Linked DNA regions of Homo sapiens. The protein of the gene in region 1 purifies or fractionates together with the protein of each later gene. This does not show direct contact. Each region holds a gene or a part of one and is shown in the gene's direction. Other genes may lie near its edges.

What was found. The genes of interacting proteins can lie anywhere in the genome.
Region 2: the proteins of PROK2 (region 1) and LRP1B purify together in Homo sapiens (affinity purification with mass spectrometry; one large-scale study listed by BioGRID and IntAct). This does not show direct contact.
Region 3: the proteins of PROK2 (region 1) and HAPLN3 purify together in Homo sapiens (affinity purification with mass spectrometry; one large-scale study listed by BioGRID and IntAct). This does not show direct contact.

The regions. Positions count from the first base shown.
Region 1 is NC_000003.12:71,782,349-71,786,445, reverse strand, and holds the start of PROK2 (prokineticin-2 isoform a precursor), read left to right. Parts: upstream 1-1,297; 5' UTR 1,298-1,393; coding exon 1,394-1,489; intron 1,490-4,097.
Region 2 is NC_000002.12:140,234,517-140,238,016, reverse strand, and holds part of LRP1B (low-density lipoprotein receptor-related protein 1B precursor), read left to right. Parts: intron 1-3,132; coding exon 3,133-3,231; intron 3,232-3,500. UniProt on the Homo sapiens protein: Potential cell surface proteins that bind and internalize ligands in the process of receptor-mediated endocytosis.
Region 3 is NC_000015.10:88,885,545-88,889,044, reverse strand, and holds part of HAPLN3 (hyaluronan and proteoglycan link protein 3 isoform 2 precursor), read left to right. Parts: exon of another isoform or gene 1-1,619; intron 1,620-1,699; coding exon of another isoform or gene 1,700-1,746; coding exon 1,747-1,870; intron 1,871-3,500. UniProt on the Homo sapiens protein: May function in hyaluronic acid binding.

The DNA.
Region 1 (4,097 bases):
AAGTAACTCTGTCCCAACTCTCCTTACTGCATTTATTAAAGAGGCTGAAAGACGCATCTGCTTTTCAATAGTTTGCGGTTCTTAAGAGACCAGGAAAGCCAGAGGTTCTGACTATTCAGGAAGAAAGTTGGGTTTCCCAAAACGGGCAAGCAAGTTCGGTGTGGTCACATCTAGGTATTCTTGACGTCATTTTTGTTGAGGGAAACAGGCTGCAGTTTTTGGAGCCAGGCTAGGATGAGAGATGGAGGGCAAATCTGTCACTTATTCTTTCCTGGTGTGCCTGGAACCCACTAGACACTCAATTCATGTTTACGTGAATGAAGGAATCACAATAACGCCCTATCGCATCTGTAAAACCGAAGGGTGATTTTCCTGGGCTGGAAAGTTTAAGAAAGAAGAGAGAGCTGCGTACCTAGGGCTTAAGGGGCCTCAGGCTGGCACTCGAAACCAGGCGTTCTCATTTCCCTTTGGCATCACCCTGAACGGCTGTGCCTGGAGCTGGCGCGGGGCTGAAGAGGGGAGGAAATACATGTGAGGAAAATCAGAGGAGAGGGTCGGGAACAGATGTGGGCATAAAGGGAAGGCCTCTGACTTGAAATAAACAAATAGGAGTCCCGCAGCTGGAAGGACAAATCCTTTCACGTCGCGGGTGATGTGGGATTGGGGCGATTTTGCTCTCCCTTTGTTCTTTCCCCTGCCTTCCACGTTTCCAGGGTATTTGATTGATGTCTGTCTTCTCTGTTAAGTTATTCCACCGTGAGGAGAGAGCCGGTGGCAGTACCTGGCACGCAGCGGGCGCCCAGTATAGACCTGCTGAACAAACGAATGGATTCAGGGGCTGCTGTGTCCCCCTCACCCACCCCCCGCCCCCTATGTGTCCACAGCGCCCCGCACGTAGTAGGCGACCCCTAAACATCTGTACAGCAAATGATTTGCAAGTTTTCGGCGCTGAGCACGTGGAGCTTTGGAAACCAGGACAGCAAATGAGTGTCTCGGAGACCACAAAAGCGGTTCCGGCGCGTGCGAAAGGCGGTGGCTGGGCGACGGCGGAGGGAACGGCGCAGAGCGGGGCGCCCCGCCGGGAGCGCTGCCTGCGTGGCGCCCGAGGCGGGGGCGCGGGGGGCCGCGCATAGCACGTGCTCGTCTGGGAGCCGGCCGGGCCGAGGCGGGCGCGCGTGTGCGCGTGGGGCGTGGGGTGTGTGCCCGCGCCGTGCCCCCCGCGTGTGCTGCCGGGCGGGCGCCGGCGTGAGTCACGGCGGGGCTAGCCTTTATAACGGCCCGGAGGCTCGCGGGAGCCGCCGCGCCCGTCCGCCCGCCGCTCCGCGCTCCACCCAGCGCACCCGGGCCCCGCGCCCCCAACTGCCTCCGGCGGCCGCCCAGTCCCGAGGGCGCCATGAGGAGCCTGTGCTGCGCCCCACTCCTGCTCCTCTTGCTGCTGCCGCCGCTGCTGCTCACGCCCCGCGCTGGGGACGCCGCCGTGATCACCGGGGTAAGCGGCCCGGGCGCACCTGTCTGCCCCTGATGCGCGCCTGGGATGTGCCCAGGGGGCTTGGGACGGGGACCCTGAAGGGCAGGCTAGAGGCAAAGGGAGGGTCGCCCTGGGCGGGGACACCTGCCCCTGTCGCCCCTTGGTGCACTTGGGAAAATACCCAGATCCAAAAGCAGCAGACGGCTGGGGACACTGGGCGCGTCCTGGAAGAAACAGTGACAAGGATGTCGCCCACCACCTTTATTACCACCTTCTCCCGCTTACTTCTCCCTCATCACCCACGGCCTCACTCCTCGCATTTTTCTTCTGTTAGGCTGAAAGAAGTTTCTCTCTGAGTCTTCTCAAGTACTTTTGGAGGCTCTCCAACCTCGAACCTTAAAATTTGACGGCCCCTTCCTGAAATGCAAAGGACCAAGACGAATTCCCCAAGTGCCCAGAGTCTTAATCCTACAGTCAAAGAGTTTGCTCCCCGATGCGTCCTCCGCAGAAACCCTTTGAAATCGCTTGGTCCAGGGCCATGTGAGCGCTTTGAAAAGCAATTGTGGGAGCTTCCTTCTGGGTTCCGGGGCTTTCCCCCGCGCTCAGGGTCTTGAGGTATCCCCATAAAAGTTTTAAATTTCTAATTCCTGGCAAAGCACCTCCAGTGCTCCAGCATAATGATGGAGTAGGTTGCTGTGTAGATGTTTAAACTTAGAGACGATGTTTTCATCTTTTCTGTAAGTAGGAACTAGTTCAGTTCTCTCCCACTCTCAACAATTTTGTGTGGATCTGAAAAAATTGGGTTTGCAGTACAATACTAAATAGTCTAGTTTACATTAACAAGGCAAAACTGCTATCATTTCCTGGTTGTTCAACTTCTTTACTGTTTTTTAAGTGAGGAATTATTTCACACCTTCATTAAATTACTTCAAATATTTAAGTGCACATAATGGGATTTAAATAAAACGTCTATGTTTGAAATGTTGATACATAGATAATATCATTTGACTTTAAAGGAAGTATCTTTGTCTTGAAAAAATCAAGCTCTATTTTCTCTATATTAGTTATTAGGTTTATAGAATTTTGAAAGTCCTTTTGCTATGACAGCATTTGTATATATCCAACAGATATTTAACTGTAAGCTCTGTGATATTTATTAGAAAAGAGATTTTTTCAAAAAATTACTTGCATAGCTTTGCCAGTCCATGTGGTTGAGAAAAACTTTTTGCAGGTCTTTCTAATACATGAGAATTGAAACATGATTGGATTTTTTTCTCCCTCTTCTCCTGCTGGCTCATTTAAAGTTTCTCCTAATCCTCTGAGCCCAAGATCCCTTTGCAATATAAGTATCTTTTTGTTCCATTCACAGGACAACACTATCTGAATAGATTTGCAATGGGTTAAGGATGAAGGGCATTAGGAAACAGCTGTCTAATTAAAAATATATAAACCTATGCAACTCTTTGTAAATTTTCCAAGAACTGAAGCTTTTGTTACAAAATAAAATTTTATCACATTGGCTGTCTATCTGTTAGAGAGGCTTAGACTGGGCTTATTATATAGTTATGTGTGCTGTTTTTGTTGTTGTTATTTTAACTCAGTGTTACAAAAAGAGAATTTTAAAAATGTCTCTAAAGCAACAGGGCAATAAAATGTAGTTATGTCTCCATGACAGGAACCATCTGGATTCAAATGAAAAACTCAGTAACTTATCAAGATACATTGTGTATAGCATGTTAAACATCCAGGTGATTGAATTTTAAAAGATTTTGGCTGGATTTTTGATTGGTTCATAAAAAAAAGCTCATGGGGCCTCAAAATTCGAGGTATTGAGCATCTGTTGAAATAAAATGCTGGCTAAAACTTTCACCTGACATCCACAGTTTTTTGGGTAGTGTATGTAGGTATTTTGAAATTGATTTATATGCCCACATAGATTTGTTAAAACTATATTGTAAAAGATCATTGACTAGACATCTTATTTATGGGATGTAATGGCTACATATACATGATTTCTGGCATGCAGATAAAAATTGGAAAATTGAAACATTTACATATTGTCCTATAAAATCCAAACACCTCAAGGTGAAATTTTTAGCTTTTATCCAGATACTTTGTTTAAATAGACTGAGAAATAAATTCTAATGAGGGAAGTAAATGAACTTTAAAGCAAAATAGTTGGTTACTTTTAATGAGAAATAATGTTAAGAATGTACCCATATTTTTATATCTTGAGAAGTTATGACTGTCCTCAAAACTAAGAATTTTGAAGGACTGTTTTAGTTGTTTCCACTAATTGTACATTTAAATTTGTGCCTAGATGATAGAGGTTTTAGTTTCTTACATATATAGTACAGGATGTTTTTATCTTATCACTACCAAAACAGATTACTGCCCACGGTTCAAACAAAGCATTCTATTTTTTGTTGGTTCTAGGAAAGAATAATAGTTCTTCAGATCCATTTTCATGCAAATAGATTTAGATTTTATTATTTATTTCTATTTACTAGAGTATGGAAATTCCTCCATAGTTGATTGTTTCATTGTATGTATTTACAACTTTTATATTGAAAGCAGGTGACTTGAGTAATTACTATTGACAATTGCACCTGTTACTTGCATTTCTTAA
Region 2 (3,500 bases), on another chromosome or scaffold:
TAGCCTCTTCTAAAGAGAAAGTACAATTATGGACTGCATTCACCTGAAGCTGAGTGTAACACATCTTAGAAAACACATATTTATTTGCTCAGTTCTTTTATAAACATGTTTTTATATGTTTTTTATTGAAAAATGATTCATTATCTAATTTTGTTTACATAAAGCAAACGAAAAACTCATTTAAAAATTGTTTTAGTATTGATATCACACAGCAAATTGTTTAGGTCTTCTTCAGGGGATAGATAGATATATAGATAGATAAAGGTCTATTATAAAGTAAAGCTACTGACTTTCAATGTTGAAATATATGCAAGGAGAAGACCAATACATGCACAGCTTCTAGAAATATGGCTGAAAAGTAGTTTGGTGAGACATTTTCTTTTCTACCCACTTCCTCCCAGTATTCCTTACAGTGTGGTTCTATGGGGTTTTGGTTTGGTAGGAACTGGATACTTACAAGATAGTTTTGTTTTCATCACTTCAGACATGGAATCCTTCTTTTAATGTTTTTTGTTTTAATTGATACATAATAAGTAGGAAATCAGTACATTGAAGAGATATCTGTACTTCCATGATTTTTACAGCATTATTCACAATAGCCAAGATATAGAATCAACCTAAGTGTGCATCAACAATGAATAAAGAAAATGCTATTCAGCCATAAAAAAGAAGGAAATCCTGTCATTTGAGGCAACATGGATAAAGCTGGATGATATTGTCATATATGAAATAATCCAGGCACAGAATGACAAATACCACATGATCTCACTCACATGTGAATCTATAGAAGTTAATATTGAAGTAGAGAGTAGAATAGTGGTTACTAGAGGGTGGAGAGGGGAGGAGGAAGGAAAATAGGTGTTGTTCAATGGGTACAAAGTCACAGTCAGATAAGAGGAATGGGTTTTGGTGTTCTGTTGCACAGTTAGGTGATGGTGGTTAACAATATTGTATTGTATATTTAAAAATAGCTAGAAAAGGATTTTTAATGTTCTCGCCACAAAAAAATAACTATGTATGAGGTGATAGATATGCTAAATACTTTGATTTTTTCTGCAATGTATACATGTATAAAAACATAACAAAACACAGTATCTCATAAATATGTATAATTCATGTAAAATAATGCTCTAATCAAATGTGTTGAGGTATTAGCAAATCTAGATACACAGCTTAGTGTAAAAATCTTGGTCAGTGTATTTTTTAAATATAAAAGAGTACAGTACTTTATTATCAAAATAAGTATGTTGTTTCCAATAATGTTTAAATGATGAGCCAGATAAGCTGTGTCCTTGGACTTCTTTGTAATTAAATCACTTTTGAGAAATATTTTTCTATCTGTCATAATATCCTTACTAGTTTAAAACATTTCATTGATACATATAGCCTGACAATCCACAGCCTTTTAAATTTAAAAATATTTGTTAGTTTTTATTACTATAAGCTGAGGTTGGCAACTTTTAAGGGAAATAGCTAAATGATACAATTATCCAGTTAAAGTTGTGAAGATTTACTTCAGTGAATTATCTGAATATTCTTTCTGATAATTTTAGAATATTTTTTCTCTAAATTAAGAGTATCAATTTAGTATTATGAAACAATTTTTCTTGGTTTATTCACTTATTTATTGAATAGTTATTTATTTTTCTGACTTACAAAAGTTACTTCATCAAAATGCACTTTTACATTGTAAATATCCAATGTGGCCAATCTACATTCAAATTATTTTGCAATCACAGTCATTGGTGTTCCTGAAGAATCTGAATAGGATCCCACATATTCAGTCTAGTTCTGAACCCATGATTAGGCTTTCTAAGCCTAAAATTGATGCTCAACTATTCACTTCTATGAAAATCAATCTTTTCACATGGATACATTGTGTACTATCAGAGAATATTATATTTTTCTAATTAGACATAATTTTATAGTTATTAAAATTCACTCCTACATCTGAAATTTTTCAAGGAAAAAGTCTTGGTAACCTTACATTTGATATTTTCTGCTTTAAAATATCACAGAAGTGGAGACATGATACATATTTTACACATTGCTATTGATAATCTATTATATCTATGAAGGAGAAAGACAAATAATAGAGTTCTGAAATTCTTTGCATTTTTCTTAGGAATAAAAATATAGTATTCATACATATAACAGACTAATGACGATATACTTTACACATTTTTCATATGAAGGAGGGTTATTTTTTCCTCATCATTTTTATTTCTAGTGATAGAATTAATCCAATTTTGTACACTTAAAGAGAATAGCTTTTTACACATTCAAAAATTTTCACATTTACTCTAGGAAGATAAAACTATGTTTCAGTGCCCCCAAATATATTTTAATGTACTTAGAACATAATACTCAAATATTTACCAATTGGATGACTGAATAACCAAAATTGCATCAAATATGACTTAGATGACTGATTCTATCTGGATCCTGATATTTGAATATAAATGTGAATTGTTGTCAAATGAGTAACTACAGAAAAAAACAGCTAGTTCTAATAGGTTTAGACAGTAGTGAGAAACAAAGGGCCATATTGAAGCAACCTTAATAATCATATGAATTTTATAGAGCATTCACTTTGTTACAAGCGTTTGATATATGCATGGTGCAATCAGTATAAATTACATTACATGTGAAGAAAAATTTTGTAGAACACTCATTTCTGTTATTCTCAAAGAGGGTAAAATTTCTAGTTCAATGGTATCTTATAATCAAAAGGATTGAAAGTACTTAATGCAGTTAATAAAATTGATTTGACTATGGGGGTAACCACAGAACAGTTTGAAGAGTTTAAAAGAGATAAATATGTACTAGTTTTATCTTCAAATTCATGCCAATTCTTACTTGGACTATTCTTTATATTTTCTGAATAAGACTTTTGTGAGAGAAATGTCTACCTATGAAGCAAAGATCCAATATTAATATTGGATCTTTAATAATATTAATATTGGATATTTTAAGTTGTTTTAAGTTGTTAAAGCTAACATGAACACACTGTAAATGGTGTAAGGCTAAAGGGTATTTTTATGTTATTTTTATGAATTAACATGATATGTATCGATGAAAAGTGATTCTATAATATTAGATCAGAAACTAAAATTTTCTGTTTATATACAGGCCAGGTACATAGGGGGAGGACCCAGTGCTTTCAAGCTTCCACACACAGCGCCGCCCATCTACCTAAACTCTGATTTGAAAGGACCACTAACTGCTGGGGTGAGAGAAGAATATTCGTTATTTCATGTCCGTTTCATCACAGAACCCTCACAATCAAAGACTAATTACTAGACTTAGAGGCTTGTTTTTAATTAAGTTTTTAATTAACAAGAGATTTCAAAATAGCATTTAAATTGGGGGCTTATGTTATGTGTCCTGTCTATGCAAGATTACATCTAAAACATTATTTTAGGCAAGCCATTAAGTAGAAATATCTCTTCTACTGGATTTGGAAATGTTATTGTCCCTTTACAGTGAACATGAGTATT
Region 3 (3,500 bases), on another chromosome or scaffold:
CCATCTTCTCTGAGTGCCTCCCATTGGCTCAATCCCACTGGAAGCCAGAAGGCCTGGGGAACTGGGACAACAGGGACCAATACGTGTCAGAGAAGGACAGACGATGGACCTGGTGGGTGTGTGGGGCAAATGGAGGACCTCCTGTATACCCCCAGCACCCCCAGGCTTGGGACTCTTGCTGGCATCTGCACCTTTGTAGTGGCAGTGCCCTACTGGATAAACCTGTCAGTCCTTCTCCACCTGGCAAACTCCTGCATCTTCAGTCTCATTTGGACATTCCCGTTTCTGTACCTCCATCGTGGTACTCAACACACAGCAATCAAGACTGCCTGCCCACGACTCTGCCCCCTCCCTGGACCAAGCTCCTTCAAGGAGTGACCCCATCTTTTAATTGTTGAGAGCACGCAGTAAATGGCAGGTGAGCAGGGCTAGGGTGACATGAGTGAGGCAGTAGCCCTTGGTGTGAGATTTAAGCGGGGGAGGAAGGGAGTTTGCTAGAAATCTTAGTAATCAAGACAAAATATTTGAATACAATATTTAAAAAAAAATCAAATCATCAAACTACAGCCCATGGGTTGGCTACCTCTTTTGAGCGCCCACCCAAACTGGAATAGCTCCCAAGACCTCTAGCATGGTGTTCAAAAATTATTTTTGAGTTGGGCGCAGTGGCTTATGCCTGTAATCTCAGCACTTTGGGAGGCCGAGGCGGGCTGATCACTAGGTCAGGAGATTGAGATCATCCTGGCTAACGCGGTGAAACCCCGTCTGTACTAAAATTACAAAAAATTAGCTGAGCTTGGTGGCACGCACCTGTAGTCCCAGCTACTCGGGAGGCTGAGGCAGGAGAATTTCTTGAACCCAGGAGGCGGAGGTTGCAGTGAGCAACCTCCACTCCAGCCTGGGCGACAGAGCGAGACTCTGTCTCAAAAAAAAAAAAAAAGGGTTCACAATGCAGGACTCATCTTTACTTAACATACCCTCTATTCACCCTGATATTTTCTATTCTAGTCTAGTTTATTTGGCGTCATTAAAAAGTGCTGCTCATACCTTTCTTTTCTTTTCTTTCTTTTTTCTTTTTTTTGAGATAGAGTTTCACTCTTGTTGCCCAGGCTGGAGTGCAATGGCATGATCTTGGCTCACCACAACCTCTGCCTCCTGGGTTCAAGCGATTCTCCTGCCTCAGCCTCCCGAGTAGCTGGGATTACAGACATGTGACACCATGCCTGGCTAATTTTGTATTTTTAGTAGAGACGGGGTTTCTCCATGTTGGCCAGGCTGGCCTCAAACTCCCAACCTCAGGTGATCCGCCCGCCTCAGCCTCCCAAAGTCCTGGGATTATAAGCGTGAGCCACCATGCCCAGCCTGCCCATAACCTTTCAAATTCTGGCTTGAAAAACATTGAGCCTGTCATATCATCCTGCTTAATTTTCTCTGCTTTTAGCTGCCTGATACTTCCTTCTTATGATTTGTCTCTTTGCTGATCTCCCGTCTTGCCTTCGGGGTACAGCTCCCTGAAAGCAGGAACCCCATCTAGCTTGTCACTGCTGTCTTCTCAGCTCCGGGAACAGCGTCTGGCACGTAGGCGGCAGGTGTCCCGCAGTGAGCTGTTGAGCAAGCGAGTGAGTGGTGTTGGAGCAGAGGGGATGTGGGCCCTGGAAGCCAGGCTTTTCTAATTGCCTTGTTTTCCTCCCCTTCCCAGTTTGCCCTGGGGCCCCAGCCTGGCCCGGGTCACCCTGGCATGAGGAGATGGGCCTGTTGCTCCTGGTCCCGTTGCTCCTGCTGCCCGGCTCCTACGGACTGCCCTTCTACAACGGCTTCTACTACTCCAACAGCGCCAACGACCAGAACCTAGGCAACGGTCATGGCAAAGGTAGGCGACCTCCTGCACCCGGCTCTTTGCTCCCCTGGGTGACCTAGACCTCCTTGGCTCTTGCTGTGATCTGAGGGTTCCAGGCTGGGACAGGGACAGCAGCCCTGTTCCAGCAGGGCCCTTGTAGTGGGCCAGCTTGCTTCTCAGACAGGGGAAGGGGTGAGTTCATTTTCCTGTGTTCGCCAGCCCCTTCGTCATGGGGCCCAATTCACTTAGGCTTTTTACTTTCCCTAAAAGTCTTGCCAGTTGTTCAAGGTCCAGCTTGAATGTGTCCTCCCCTGGTCCCCCCAGTGGAAAGGGGACCTGGGGTCGAATAGATGTGAGTTTGAATGTTTTTTTTGTTTGTTTTTGAGATAAAGTCTCACTCTGTTGCCGAGGCTGGAGTGCAATGGCACGATCTCGGCTCACTGCAACCTCTGCCTCCCGGGTTCAAGCGATTCTCCTGCCTCGGCCTCCCGAGTAGCTGGGATTACAAGCATGTGCCACCATGCCTGGCTACTTTTTGTATTTTTAGTAGAGAAGGGGTTTCACCATGTTGGCCAGGCTGGTCTTGAACTCCTGACCTCAGGTGATCCACCTGCCTCGACCTCCCAAATTGCTGGGATTACAGGCATAAGCCACCATGCCTGGCCCGAGTTTGAATCTTATAATTCTACCTCTTACTAGCTGTGTGGCCTTGGGCAGGGAACGTTTTAAAGTAGCAGTTATTGTGCACCCAACATGGGTTGGGCGCGCTTCTAGATATTTTGCATATGTCGTCTCCTGTAATCACAAAAGCCCTGATGTAGGCAAGGGTGAAAATATACCTTTTTTTTTTTTTTTTTAAGATGGAGTCTCACTTTGTTGTCCAGGCTGGAGTGCAGTGGCGCGATCTTGGCTCACTGCAGCCTCTGCCTCCCAGGTTCAAGCGATTCTCCTGCCTCAGCCTCCCAAGCAGCTGGGATTACAGGCATCTGCCACCACACCTGGCTAATTTTTGTACTTTTAGTAGAAATGGGGGTTTCTCCATGTTGGCCAGGCTGGTCCTGAACTCTTGACCTCAGGTGATCCACCCGCCTCAGCCTCCCAAAATGCTGGGATTACAGGCGTGAGCCAACGAGCCTTGCCGAAAATACACATTTTTAACCATTAGTGCAGCACGGGTGCTGACCAGGCTGAATTGATGCTGTCTGCCCTCACAGCCTGAAAGTAGATTCTATTATCATCCCTTCTCATAGATGAGCAAACTAGGCTCAGAGAGTTGATCCAGTTGTCCAGGTCAAACAGCTATTAAAAAGACAAAGCTGAGGGCTGGGTGCAGTGGCTCATGCCTATAATCCCAGCACTTTGGGAGACTGAGGTGAGTGGATCACTTGAGGTCAGGAGTTCAAGGCCAGCCTGGCCAACATACCGAAACCCTCTACTAAAGATACAAAAAATTGGCCAGGCGCGGTGACTCACACCTGTAATCCCAGCACTTAAGGAGGCCGAGGTGGATGGATCACGAGGTCAAGAGATCAAGACCATTCTGACCAACCTGGTGAAATCCTGTCTCTACTAAAAATACAAAAGTAGCCGGGCGTGGTGGCAGGTGCCTTTAATCCCAGCTTCTCAGGAGGCTGAGGCAGGAGAATTGCTTGAACCTGGGAGG